Linked DNA regions of Homo sapiens. The protein of the gene in region 1 interacts with the protein of each later gene in a biochemical or structural test. Each region holds a gene or a part of one and is shown in the gene's direction. Other genes may lie near its edges.

Region 1 (7,279 bases):
GGCAGGTAGCCCCTGGCCCCAGAGCAGCTCTGGAGGGTGGTCCTGGGGAGGCCTGGGTGGGAGGGCAGGGCCAGCTGGCACTGGACCTGGCCAAGCCAAGCCCGAGAGGAGGCCCACCTCTATCCAGCCTCGACAAGGCCACCTCCCCCAGCCCGTGGGTGGGGCTCTCCTGCAGCCCACGGCCGGCCTCCAGTCCACCCGCAGGACCCAGGATGACGTGTGGTGGGCGGCTCCCTGGACAGCCCCAGCATCCTCAGGCTGGTGGCGGGCCTCTCTCCCCGCCCTGCCCTCTGCCTCTCCCTCTGTCTGGGCTCCCAGCAGAGGCCTGGAGAGGGCAGGGACAGGTTCTGGGCAGTTCCCTGGGAGGGGGCAGGACTCCCAGGGCTGTTGCCATGGGGACGACTGAGCAACACCACTGGCTGGTGAATAAACAGGCAGGTTCCCTGACCAGTGACTGAGACAAAGACAACCACAGAAATCCCAGCTGGGGGTGGACAAGGAAATGCCTCCTTGGGAGAAGAGGGGGTGGCAGTAAAGGCCCTGGCGAGGTTGGGGAGCTGCTTGGGGGGGGGTGGGGACACAGACAGGAAGGGGTATCTTGTTCCTCGGGAATTTTCTTTCCCAAAGCTCCTCCCAGGCCATCCTTCCTGAGGATGAGAGGCAGATCCCTACTCTCTTGGTGGTGTCAGAGCACCTGGAATGGGGCTGGGTCCCCTCCCAGATCCCCATCCCCTAGAAGCCACACAGTGAGGGTGGAGGGCAGGTGGCCGGCTGGCAGGGTAAGTGGTGCAGGGAGTCTGTGAACACAGGTCTGCGGAGAGGCCATAAGCGCGAGGCTGTGCCAGGACCCTCGGGGGGCCCTGCCAGCCAGATGGCTCTCCATTTGTGTCTCTGGTTGAGTTTTCCCAGGGGTTTGTGGGGGGCACGTCCCTCAGCAGGTACATCCGTGGGGCTGCCCAGCCTCTGCACCTTGCCCTGAGCCCCCCGTCCTCCAGAACTCCTGGCCTGCTGCCGCTCATCCCTCATAGGCCTCAGGGTCCCTTGGACAGGCTCCCAACGTGCTCACCCAGATGGCTGGGGGTGACTTTCAGGAATGACCACGTAATGCAGCGTGGACAAGTGTGCCCTACAGAGACCTGACCTTTTGTTCACCTGTCTTGTTCACCCACTTGGCGAGGTCAGGGACCATGTCCAGTTCATCATGTCACCCTCAGGGGCCCCACCCTCTGGACCCTCCCAGACACCCATGTGCTGGCCTCCCAGCCCTGATCCCAATGCTGCTGAGGCCACACTTCACATTCTCTGTTCCCAGAGCTGCCTCCCAGCCGGCTGTCAGGCGGCAGATCCCTCCTTGCATCTGTGGCCCCCAGGCCTGGTGTGCGTCACCTGCACAAGTGTCCCGGGGCCCTAGGAAGAGGGGGCACCGCGGCCCAGCCTGGCATCCCCCCGTCTCATGTCTAATCCCAGCAGCAGCTCAGTAGATGCTGGGCTCCAACAAACCTGAGGTTCCTGGGCCACGGGGCCAGCATGCCCGTCGGAGCAGACACTCCACGTGGCTGTAGGAGTCCAACTACTCCACCCTCCTCGTCCTCCCAGTTCGGCTGAGAGGCTGCAGCTGCTGCTGCTGGTTTTTGTTTGTTTTTCTTTTAAATAGTAATGGGGTTTATCAGCTCTTGGAATAACGGTCTGTAGGACTTAATCAGGGCGCTGTCTCTGAGACCGGTCTTGGTTCTTCCTTTTTGACATACTGTCTTCGTCTCCAGGCTGCTTGACCTTCTGTTGGTTCTTGGAGCAGAAAAGTCAGGAGTCTCTGTCCCGTCACTGGCAGTGTTGCCGAGGGGGAAGCGGGGAGGAGTGGGGCTCCCAGGTGAGAGGGGGCCCAGAGCCTCATCCGCCCCGTTCATTCTAGAACTCAGCACGTTTCTTTTTTTTTCTTTTTTGAGACAGAGTCTTGCTCTGTCGCCCAGGCTGGAGTGCAGCGGCACGAACTTGGCTCACTGCAAGCTCCACCTCCCGGGTTGACGCCATTCTCCTGCCTCAGCCTCCCGAGTAGCTGGGACTACAGGCACCTGCCACCACGCCTGGCTAATTTTTTGTATTTTTAGTAGAGACGGGGTTTCACCGTGTTAGCCAGGATGGTCTCGATCTCCTGACCTCGTGATCCGCCTGCCTCGGCCTCCCAAAGTGCTGGGATTACAGGCGTGAGACACCGCGCCCGGCCCTCAGCAAGTTTCTACCAAGACAGGCAGCCCTAACCTGGCAGGTGGGGTTGGCCTGGGTCGTGGTGAGATCAAGGTTTGGTTCTTATGGGCAGGCCTCCTAAGCGATGACTGAGTGCCACTGTGTGTTCCGCCAGGCAGCTGCTGCTGCTCTCCATCCCTGCATGGACAACGGACATGGCAAACCATCAACACTGCTCTCCTTGGAGGCTGTCTAGGGAGGTCCAGACATCTTGGGAGAGACTGGGGTTCTCTTTTGCGCAAGAGAGCATGGGCAGGCTCTGCGGGAGGCCCTTGGGGCAGGCATCAGGGCTCTGGTCCTCCTTGCTTTGGCTCGGTGGGCCCGAGCTCTCCTGTCTCCCCAGGCCTCCTTTCCTCCGTGGGGTACAACTGGGCTCTGGGTGGGCAGGTGGGGGCTCCTGCAGGCAGTGCTGTTTTCTCCAAGGGGGATGCACGTGACCCGCCAGACCCTCCTGGAAGCCGCCTCTTCTCAGGGTGGTTGTGCTCAGCCCCCACTTCCCGAAGGTCGGTGAGGCTGGGGCTACAGTTTCAGACCAGAGCAGGCAGTGCCACCGAGAGGGTGCCGCGCGAGGTAGGCCGGCGACGGGGCTTCCTGGGCCGCAGTGCCATCCCGGCGACCTTGGCGAGGGGATGGGAACGGGGTGTCCGCACAGCCATTTCCAGGCGCCCGCGACGGCAGTAAGGGAGTGTCCCAGGCGTTGGTCCCGGCAGCCACACCTCGCTTCGCCTTTGCTCACTCATGGAGAGCCCTCAGCCGCCTCCCACTGCCGCTCCTGAATGCGCCTCACACATCCAGATTTGAAAGCACCCATAGGGCCGCCGCCTCCCACCTCCCGAGGAATCCGCTGCGCTGGGCCCGCAGGGAGGCAGGCTGGACGGCCCGGGCGCCTCCCCATTGGTTGGCCGGGCCGGGCTCGACTCCCTCGCGCGGCTGCCGGCCACAGGCTCACCTCCCTTCCCGCCGCGCCCGGGGAGAGGAAGCGAGGTGGCCTTTACCCCTGCGCAGGCCGGCCAGGAATGCGGGGCCGCGCTTCCCACTCTACCCGCCCGAGGGCTGAGGACGGCGGAGGCGAGAAGCGACGCGCAGAGTCCGGGCGCCGAGTGGTGGAGACGCGTCCCAGGCCGTTCGGATCGGGGCTGCACACGGGCTGGGGCGAGGCCCGGGCCGCTGGTTCCCGCCCCCTCCCGGAGCCATTCGTCCCCCGCAGACAACACGACGGGAGGGACCCACGCGCGGCCGCCGGTGCCCCTAGTCAGCCAAAAGCGAGCCCCACTGGCGGGCACCCCCACGAGGCCTGCGCCCGAGGTGCGCCGATCTCCGGGTGCGCCGAGGCCCCCGAGGGTAGGCGCGCGCGGTGCCCAGGCCCTTCCAGACCCCGCACCCCGGGCGGCCTTCCTTGGGGGCGCCTTTTCCGCACCGCGAGCGGCCCGCGTTGATGCCCGGCCGGGCTGGGGGAGTCGCCAAGTTTGCGAGACGCGCGCAGTGCAACCGCGCGTCAGGCGCGGGGACGGCCGGTGACCTGGGCACCCGCGCGCCCCCGAGGAACCTGCGCGTGGGCAGCGCCCGGTGCGCGGCCCGGGAAGGGAGCGGGTGCCCTCGCCGGGGTCGCCGCTCCCGTGGGGTGTTTCCAGGCTGCTCCGCGCTCGCGGGGCAAGGGCGCAGCGGGGGCCAGGGGGACCCCCGCGCCGCGCCGCCCCAGCCCCCCGCCAGCCCAGGGGAGGGGGCTTCCCACAATGCCCAGCGAGCTCCAGCCCGCACTTCCGCTGTCCGGCTGCCCGCGGGGGGGAGAACGGACCCCCGGCGCGGCCCCCTGCGACCCCGCGGCGCGGCGCCGGGAGCCGAGCGAGGGGCGGGGCCGGCGGCCGGGCCGGCGTGGGCGGGGCCCGGGGCGGTGGCCGCGGCCGGGGCGCGGCGCGGGCCAATCAGCGGCGGCCGGGCGCGCGCCGGGGGGCGGGGTCAGGGTCCGCGGGCGGGGCGCGCGCGCGCGGGCGGCGGGGGCCGCGGGGTTGGAGCGGGCGCGGGGGCGCGCGCCGGCCTGACGGACCGACGGACGGACGGACGGACCGAGCAGCCCCGGCGAGCGCGCAGCTCGGACCCGCCCGGACGCAGCGCCCTCCCGGCGGCGGCGGCGATCACCGGCGCCGGCCCGGCGGCCGCGGCGCCCGCCCTCGCCCGCGCCCCATGGGGTCACAGGTAAGCGGCGCCGGCTCATTGTCCGCGCGGCCGGGCGGGCGCATCGCGGCGGGGGCCGGGCCCGGAGCCGGGAGCCGGGAGCCGGGGCCGCTGCGAGCCCGGGCGCGCCCCCGCCGCCGGCCGCCCCGCCACGCCCCGCCCCGCGGGGGCGCCCTCCCGGGGGCCATCGGCGCTCCCAGCTGCGGCGCGGGCTCCGGGGGCGGCGGCGGAGACCCCGGCCCGGCCCCCGCGGGTGCCCCCCAGGCCGGCGGCGCGGGGCGGGGCGCGCGGGGGCGGCGCGGGTTCCCCGCGGGGCTGAGCGCGGAGGCGGCTGGGCTGCCCCGGCCCCTCGGCCCCCGGCACCTCCCGCCGCCGCCGCGCTCCCTCCCCGGCACCTCCGAGAGGGGAATTTTCCAGCTGGTAATTTCTGCTGCGTCAACGCCTGGCCCCGAGGCAGCCCGGGGGCGTCTTGGCGCCCCCCGCCCGCGCCCCCCGCCGGCACAGCCCAGCCGCACCCGGAGCCGCCCGCGCCGAGTTTGCCAAGAGTCGGAACTGCGGGAGGTGGGCGCGGGCGGGTCCCGGCGCCCTGAGGCCGGGGGGTCATTGTCTCCCCGGACGCCGGGCGCCGGCCTGGTCTCCATCTTAATCGCCGGCCGAACCGGGGCGCAGGGGCCTCGGGGCGGGGCGGCTCGGGGCGCGGAGGGCTCGGGGCGCGCGGGGCGGACGGGGCGCGCGGAGGAAGCGGGGTCCGCTGCGAGCCGCGTCTTTGTTTCTCTGTAAATAGACATGTCAGTTTCGCGGGGGAGCGCGAGCCGGTGTCTGACAACTCAATCCCTAAGGCAAACGGGGAATTCTCTGCGCCAGAGGGAGGGCTCCTGCTAGTTGGGGTTCCCCTGGCCCCGCTGACAGATTCACTGTTTGTAGGTTTAACGAAGCACACACAATAGGGCTGGACCGAGGAGCCAGGGTACAGACCAGATGGGGCGAAGAACGGATATTTTCTGACAGCGAAGAAATATAAACAAAAGAAAGTTTGAGATTCGCAGCGAATTTCCTCTCTCGCTTTCCGTGCTGCAATCTCAACGATGCATTTGGAGTGGATTACGGTGGCAAGATTGTGATCAGCATTGTTTAAAGAAATGCTAATTAGAAACGTGTTTAGCGCGCGGCCTGGGCGCAGACACCTGTGCGCCGAGAACTCACGGGCATTTTAATTGTATCGATTGTAGAATCTTTCATATTGGCTCTATTATCAGAGCTAACTTCCCGTTTGGGTAACAGACTGGATACATCTCTGCTGCTGGCACTCACGCTGCCTCTGCAAGGCACTATTTCACTCTACAAGAGTGGAAAATAGTTTGTTCATCAAAAGGAAATGTATAGAAGGGGTTTTTCACATGAATAATGAAGCAAGCGACAGTATTTATCAGAGTAGAACCTTTCTGCTCGGTGTGTTTTACGTGTTTCCAACTGGCACTTTTGGGCACCTCAGCCTGGTTACCACTGCAGAAAGGACTGAGGAGTGAGGGGAGTACTTGGGCACAAGTTACTGCAAATTTAGGTGGGAACTTACTGTGTCCCCTAAAAAGCTAGACATCTTCTCCGTAACTGAAGGAAGAGGGCTGGGGAGTTACTGTCAGATTTCTCCTTGGGGCGTGGAATGCACTCACTTTGAGGTGTTTAGAAATCCGAAATTCCGCCTTGCCTTCAGGCCAGCCTGGGGACAAGCATTTAATTAAGCCTCTCACTGACAGCATTATCCTGAACGTGAGAGTTTTCTTTTGCTTAGATGAGGTGATTTCTGTTCGGGTTTAGCTGTTTTGTGTGAGGATGAGTCGTTCTGTGCTCAGACCTGAGTTCCACTCCTGTTTCGGATGTTCGGGTTGGGTGGACTGTTACCTAAGGGCCCCCAGGTCAGTTCCACCAGGGCCAGGCTGACCCAGTGCCCTGCGTCCTCCGTCCCTCCCCAGCCCCTGGTGGTCACAGAGGTCAGGAGGTAAACCCTGTGAACGGTGAAACTGCTCCAAGGATTTAGAGGAAATGCCGTGGGGGGTACACAGTTGTTATTGTCAGACGATGTACTATTTACAAACACTGAATTAAATTTTAGCAGAGTGAACTTTCCAACACTGCCCTGACGTGGGGTTTTTAAATTAAGGGAAATTGGGCCACTCTGTCCCTGTGGCCTGTGTTTCTGGGACAGCGGTGCAGCTCCAGTGCTCTGTTCTCCATCAGAGGTCTTAGCCCGGCCTCTCAGAGCCCTGGAGACCCACTTCGTGCACGGTGCCTAGACGGCTCCACAGCCTGAGAACTGGAGCCGGTTCCTCCCACTGCCGTGACTGGTGCCCAGGCACCCGCTCCACTGCTGAGTTAAAGTGAGAGGAAAGGTCTAGAAGTCCTTGCCCCTTCCCATCCGCACACCCAGTGTCACGGCGTCTGCCGTGGTAGGTTCCCTGTCCTGGGGACTTCGTGTTCTTGCCTAAGTACCGTTCTTGTAAAAACTCAGGCTGCTGCTTCTCCCTGGGCTTTGCATGTTTTACCTGGAAGTCTCATGAGTGACCTTGAGTGATGGTTGATACTTCCCTCTACTGGTTTTTCTAGCAGATTTAAAAAAAAAAATACCCTTTGAATCTGTCCCCTCCCCTGGGGGAAAAATTCATCTTGTTGCTGCTAAGTTTGCTTGAATGGCCTGACTCCTAAGAATAAATGTTTGATTCAAAATCTCTATTAAGGCCACAGACTTATTCAGGGCTTTGAGAGGCCGCCGCCTTATCCTGATTGTGGTCCTCTTGCCGTCTGCCGCGGCTGCGGCGTAGCTGTGAACTTGTGCGGAGTGCTGGGGTCTTAGGCCATGGGGTCCATGGGA
Region 2 (7,023 bases), on another chromosome or scaffold:
ACTTTGAAAGTGGGAATTTAGGATGAGGAAGAAGTAGCCACAGGAGGGTAGTAAGGGAGTAACAGTGTTCCAGGTAGGAGAAAGATCAACCTGCCAAAGCCCTGAGACAGGAAAGAGTCTGGCCTGATACTGGAACTGAAAGAAGGCTTTTGTGGAGTGTAGTGGGTGAAGGGGAAAGTGCTGTAACTGAAGATGGAGTAATAGACCTGCCCCCTTCCCACTCCCCGCCCTTTTATATAGATGTAAAGTCCTGGAATGCCTCAGCCAAACATGGGAACATCACCCATTCATTGGGCACATCAGATTCTGATCTGAGGAAATCACCTTGTGTGCTAATCTACTTCTGTCTTCTCTACCTCTTTTTTCCATATTGCTTTTATACCTTTTGCAAAATTAATGAAGAAAGAATTAGCAAAGCTAGTAGTCATTACTTTCTAGAGTTGAACACTTAAGGAAAATAGGCATGGTCTTACTGATTCATCCCATTCAGACAACACAAATCTTGAAGTTGGGTATGTCCCAGTGCTATAAGTAGCCATATATTGATTTCCCATTCCTAAATACATTTGAACCTTTAAAAAATCAATTTGTTTCCTGATTTTTATGATGAATTCTAGAAGTATATTAATAGCCACTATTTATTGAGAGCTTACCATGTGTCAGACCCTTTTTTTCTGAGTACTTTGCGTGCATTATAATCCTCACCACAACTTTGTGAGATAAGTCCTGTTATTGCCTCCATTTTCTTGATTGAAGAACCTGAGAAGTAGAGTGTTAAGGAATTTGCCCCAGGTCCCAGAGCTACTAGGTGGTAGAGCTGGGTTATGAACACAGGCAGTCTGACTTCCAGAGCTCGCGTTCTCTGTCATTTTGAGATACCACCTCTGTGTAATACGTTCCTTTAAAATTGAAGTAAAGTAGATGCCTTCCTGAAGTTTGTAAAGGCATCCTTTGCCAAATGTTTCAAGTTTGGATGAGAAAAAAAGCTGGGTTCAATGTGTATGTGCCACTTACAATCTAGATTTATGATCATGCCTCTTAGTCTCCATTTTCCCAAATTAAATCCATGTGATCTCATCTGCAGTACCCTCTCAGGCTTCAGTTATGTCAGTTCTCCAATGGGAGACCTCATCTAGCTCTGTCGCAGTTCAGGATTAGACTAGATAAAGCCCAAGGTAATTCCCCTTTCCTGAAGCAATGTAAATTCCGTAGTTTTAGCCTGTCCTGTTTTCAGCCTCCTGGAATTGCCTCAAGTGAAGGCATTACTGTTCTATAGCTTTTCATTCACTATGAAAAATGGTCCCAAAATTATCTTCAGCATTCTAATTGAGCAGATAGCCTCATTGCACCTTTTTTCATAGTCACCAATTGCCTAAAATAATTAGCTATTATAAGTGTCCTTCAGTTCCTCCTCTTAATAATTTTGGCTGCTCTTTAAGTTTCTTGACCTCTTTTTGTGCCACAGTACATGCAGAAGTGTGTGTGTGTGTGTGTGTGTGTGTGTGTGTGTGTGTGTGTTTTAATTGTGGTAAGAAGTACTTCATATTTGTTTATTATTTTCTGATCAGAAGTTTCGTGTACATGCATCACGTTTATTTTTCTTTACAAGCCCATTTCAAAACTGTTTTCAGACTTAAAGATTTGGAGACATAGAATATATAAATTGCTTGGCAGAATGAATTCTAATGAATATTAGAGATTTTACACTATACTCAATTCTTTACTTCATTTTGTAGTACAAATAGTAATGAAATAAAAGATATGACGTGAACTCTGTCCTCCAGGAATTTTTCTTTTTTTGAGGCAGAGTTTCACTCTTGTTGCCCAGGCTGGAGTGTAATGACACGATCTCGGCTCACTGCAACCTCCGCCTCCTGGGTTCAGGCAGTTCTCCTGCCTCAGCCTCCCAAGGAGCTGGGATTACAGACATGTGCCACCATGTCCAGCTAATTTTTCTATTTTTAATAGAGACTGGGTTCCACCATGTTGGTCAGGCTGGTCTCAAACTCCTGATCTCAGGCGATCCACCCACCTTAGCTTCCCAAAATGCTGAACAAACCCCCCTCCCAAAGTAAGGCATGAGTCACCATGCCCAGCCCAGGAGTTTTTCTTAAAATATTATTTTCCTTTAAATAATGAATGTACACATATAACATTTGATAACAATATAAAACAGATTATGATTAGGTGCCAAAGTGAGTGAGTGGTGCATGAACTATGTTAGGCTTTGAAATAAGAGAGGCCATGGTGAGCTGAGCATGTCAGAGAGGCTTTGGCAAGAGCCTGGAGCTCCTGGAGGGCAAGGACTCTGTCCCCTTCCTATATGTCCCCAGTGGCCTGTTGGAGCAGGTGTTCAGTAAGTATTGATTATAGAAATGATTGAGACTTGAACTTAAGCTTGAAGATTAAGTAAAATTTATTCAAATCTGAGAGAGGTTTTTTCTGTTTTAATGCCATCTATTGTGCTTTGTTTTTGATTTTTGTTCACTGTGTGAACTGTTTTATACTCATCTAATGAATTAATTTAATAATCATTCAATTTCTTTAAGGCAAAATGGAAAGGAATATGGCTTACAAGGCCCTGCGTGATTCTGCTTTTTTAAATTTTCTTTTTTTTTTTGAGACAGAGTCTTGTTGTGTGCCCAGGCTGGAGTGCAGTGGCGCGTGCCTCCCAGGTTCATGCCATTCTCCTGCCTCAGCCTGCTGAGTAGCTGGGATTACAGGCGCCCGCCACCGTGCCTGGCTAATTTTTTTTTTTTTTTTTTTTTTTTAATTTTTAGTAGAGACGGGGTTTCACCGTGTTAGCCGGGATGGTCTCGATCTCCTGACCTCGTGATCCTCCCGCCTCGGCCTCCCGAAGTGCTGGGATTACAGGCTTGAGCCACCGCGCCCGGCCTGTATTTTTTTTTAGAAGAGACGGGGTTTCACCATGTTAGCCAGGATGGACTTGATCTCCTGACCTCGTGATCCGCCCGCCTCAGCCTCCAAAAGTGCTGGGATTACAGGCGTGAGCCACTGCATGTGGCCTGACCAGTGGTTTTCAAATGCTCTTTAGCTGTGAAACTCTTCCTTGAAATGAAATCTTCTGCAGATATGCATGTGGAAAACAGGTGAAAAGGAACTTTTTTGTTAAAAAAAAAAAAAAGAAGAAGAAAACAAGGTGGGGTGAGGTGGCTTATGCCTGTAATCCCAGCACTCTGGGAGGCCAAGGCGGGTGGATCACCTGAGGTCAGGAGTTTAAGACCAGCCTGGCCAAGATAGTGAAACCCCATCTCTACTAAAAATACAAAAATTAACTGGGCACGGTGGCGCATGCCTGTAATCCCAGCTACTCGGGAAGCTGAGGCAGGAGAATCGCTTGAACTCGGAGGGCAGAGGTTGCAGTGAGCCGAGATCATGCCACTGCACTTCAGCCTGGGTGATAGAGTGAGACTCCATCTCAAAAAAAAAAAAGGATGTAGGCCGGGCACAGTAGCTCACACCTATAATCCCAGCTACTTGGGAGGCTGAGGCAGAAGAATCACTTGAACCCCGGAGACGGAGGTTGCAGTGAGCCGAGATCACGCCACTGCACTCCAGCCTGGGAAACAAAGTGAGACTCTGTCTCAAAAGGAAAAAAGAAAGGATGTAAATTCACTCAATTCATTTTTAATGTTATTGTTGGCTCCAAGTGTTTGGTGGATGAATGAATAAGTGAAAGAATGAACAGGCTGGGTGCAGTGGTTAACCCCTGTAATCCCTGCACTTTGGGAGACCGAGGCGGGTAGATCACAAGGTCAGGAGTTTGAGACCAGCCTGGCCAGCATGGAGAAACCCCGTCTCTACTAAAAATACAAAAAATTAGCCGGGCATGGTGGCGAGCTCCTGTAATCCCAGCTACTCGGGAGGCTGAGGCAGGAGAATTGCTTGAACCCGGGAGGCGGGGGTTGTAGTGAGCCATGATTGCACCGCTGCACCCCAGCCTGGACAACAGAGCGAGACTCCGTCTTAAAAAAAAAAAGAAAGAATGAATAAATAAGGGGATCTTTTTTCTATAGTCCCTATCTCCACTCTATGAATGGATGAGATCCTAAGTGTACCTTGATGCAGTTGAATAGGAAGTGTGGCGTGTAGCTTACAGGCAAATTCAGTGATGATACAAAGGATATAAAGGAGAATAAAGTAGGGTTTGTATCCTGCAACTTTTGAGTTGTTTTTCAGGTGTGAAATAACTGAGGCCCCTCTTCAAAAATCTGTTTAGTAGGAATGGGTTTGAGCTGATGATACATCCATACCTGCCAGCTGTACTCCTGAGTCAGTGAGCATGCGCATCTGAGAAGACAGCAGTAGACTGGGAGTGCAGTATGCCAGGGTGGCAGAGTCATTGCAATAACAAGCCAGGCAGCCCAGATTGGGGTTAGGAACTTTGTCCTCAATAGCACTGTGTGTCAACCAACAAAGCTAACTAAACAGAACAGCTCATCTCAACAGATGTTCATGTCACATCTCAGGACCAGGTCCTTTGCTAGGTGCTGGAGTTATAAAGATACATAAGAAACTGTCCTGGTTACTGAGGCAACTGTAGTCTAACTGGGGAGAAGGACACGTGAATAGTTTCAATACCAGGGTACTATGAGAACAACTATAAAACTTTCAAATTATAAACCCTAGAAGAAATGAGTTAGCCTTTATTGGGCATGTATTATGTCCCAGACCCTGTGCTACGCATGTGTCATGTATCGTCTCTTTTAATCCTGGAAATGTTATGAGGCAGGCAGTGTTATTATGCTTTTTTTTACAGAATAGGAAACTATAGTTTAAACAGTGCGTCCAATAGAACTTTCTGCAGTGATGGAAATGTTCTAGATCTGCACTGTCCAGTAAGTAAACACTAGTCACATGTGGCTATTGAATACCTAAAATGTGGTTAGTGGAACTGAGGGACTGAATTTGTGCATTTATTTAACTTAAATAGCCACATGTGGTCAGTGGTCACCATATTGGACAGCTCAGGCTTAGTGTTCTCAGCCTCTGCAGTGTTCTCTGTGATCTGGTCCTCCATTACCTCTGGTCATCTTCTACTTCCCCTCCTCACCCATTCTAACTTCACTGGCCTCCTTACAGGCCTTCAGATAAACCTGGCATGTCATTGCCCCTGCATCCCTCTTTCCCTTGCCTCCTTTAAATCTTGGCTCAAAGCTGGGCCTGGTGGCTCACGCCTGGAGGTGGGAGGATCACTTGAGCCCAGTAGTTCAAGTCCAGGCTTGACAACATAGGGAGACGCCGTCTCAAAAAAAAAAAAAAAAAAGTAGGCCTGGGTGGTACACATATAGTCTCAGCAACTGGGAAGCTGAAGTGGGAGGATCACTTGAGCCTGGGAGGTCAAGGCTGCAGTGAGCTTTGATCGCGTTACTGCACTCCACCCTGAGTAGCAGAGCAAGACCCTGTCTCAAAAAAAAAAAAAAAATCTTCACTCAAATATCACATTCTCAAAGAGGCCCACCCTGATCATCCCTGAAACTCCCTTAACCTACTCTTTTTTTTTTTTTTCTTTTTTTGAGACAAGAGTTTTGTTCTTGTCGCCCAGGCTGGAGTGCAGTGGTGCAATCGCAGCTCACTGCAACACCTCCCGGGTTCAAGTGATTCTTCTGTCTCAGCCTCCCGAGTAGCTAGAATTACAGGTGTGTGCCACCATGCCTGGCTAATTTTTGTACTTTTAGTAGAGATGGGGTTTCACCATGTTGGCCAGGCTGGTCTCGAACTCCTGACCTCAGGTGATCCGCCCGCCTCTGCCTCCCAAAGCGCTCGGATTACAGGCGTGAGCCACTACGCCCAGACCCCCTTAACCTACTCTTGTTCGTTCTATACCATTCACTATTGCTAACATGTTATGACTTATTATCATCATTATTATTATTGACTGTCCCCTCCCCCCACCTAGTAAGTGTCATGAAGGAGGTTTTTGTTTACTGATGTATCCTTAGTGCCAAGGATAGTGCCTGGAAGGTAGTAGTCACTCAATAAACCATTAGTTCACCGTTTAAGCCAGTAGGATTCACACCCAACCTGTCTACACCAGAACCTGTGTTCTTATTCACTATATTGTACTTCCTCCTTGTAAGCGTAGCATTCCTCACAAAGTAAATGAGAAAAGCTTCATTTGAAAGGAACAGGGGCCAGGCGCGGTAGCTCACGCCTGTAATCCCAGCACTTTGGGAGGCCGAGGCGGGCGGATCACGAGGTCAGGAGTTTAAGACCAGCCTGGCCAACATGGTGAAACCCCATATCTACTAAAAATAGAAAAATTAGCCAGGCGTGGTGGTGAGCGCCTGTAGTCCCAGCTACTTAGGAGGCTGAGGCAGGAGAATCACTTGAACCTGGGAGGCGGAGGTTACAGTCAGCCAAGATCACACCATCGTACTCCAGCCTGGGCAACAGAGTGAGACTGTCTCAAAAAAAAAAAAAAAAAAAAAGAAGGAACAGGTAAGAGAAAGCAGGTATCCTTAATTTCTCCAGTTTCACTGAACTATTAAATGTCTTCACGTAAATAAACAAATTGCAGCCATTTAAACAGCTGATTTATAAATGACAGTTCAGAAGGGCACATCAGCTCTATTTAAAATGCAGTGTTAGGCCACATAGAGTGGCTCACACCTGTAATCCCAGTACTTTGGGAGGCTGAGGAGGGCAGATCTCCTGAGGTCAGGAGTTCGAGACCAGCCTGGGCAACATGGTGAAACCCAATCTCTACTAAAAATACAGAAATTAGCTGGGCATGGTGGCGCACACCTGTAATCCCAGCCTGTACTTGGGAGTCTGAGGCACCAGAATTGCTTGAGCCCAGGAGGCGGAGGTTGCAGTGAGCCAAGATCGTGCCACTGCACTCCAACCTAGGCAATAGAGTGAGACTCTGTCTCAAAAAAAGGAATGTTAGTCTCCCCATTTTACATATAGTAAACAGGAAAGAGGAGATTTAGTATCTTATAGCCCAGTGGAACCCAGGGTTTGAAGATGCTCGTCCTAAATGGATTACCACTCCCCTTT

What was found. Proteins that work in one complex are often made in the same cells at the same time.
Region 2: of the proteins of ZBTB46 (region 1) and DESI1, one has a biochemical effect on the other in vitro, tested with the Homo sapiens proteins (one study listed by BioGRID).

Annotation. Positions count from the first base shown.
Region 1 is NC_000020.11:63,828,252-63,835,530, reverse strand, and holds the start of ZBTB46 (zinc finger and BTB domain-containing protein 46), read left to right. Parts: upstream 1-4,266; 5' UTR 4,267-4,434; intron 4,435-4,700; exon of another isoform or gene 4,701-4,833; intron 4,834-4,893; exon of another isoform or gene 4,894-4,974; intron 4,975-7,279. UniProt on the Homo sapiens protein: Functions as a transcriptional repressor for PRDM1.
Region 2 is NC_000022.11:41,611,021-41,618,043, reverse strand, and holds part of DESI1 (desumoylating isopeptidase 1), read left to right. Parts: intron 1-7,023. UniProt on the Homo sapiens protein: Protease which deconjugates SUMO1, SUMO2 and SUMO3 from some substrate proteins. Has isopeptidase but not SUMO-processing activity. Desumoylates ZBTB46. Collaborates with UBQLN4 in the export of ubiquitinated proteins from the nucleus to the cytoplasm.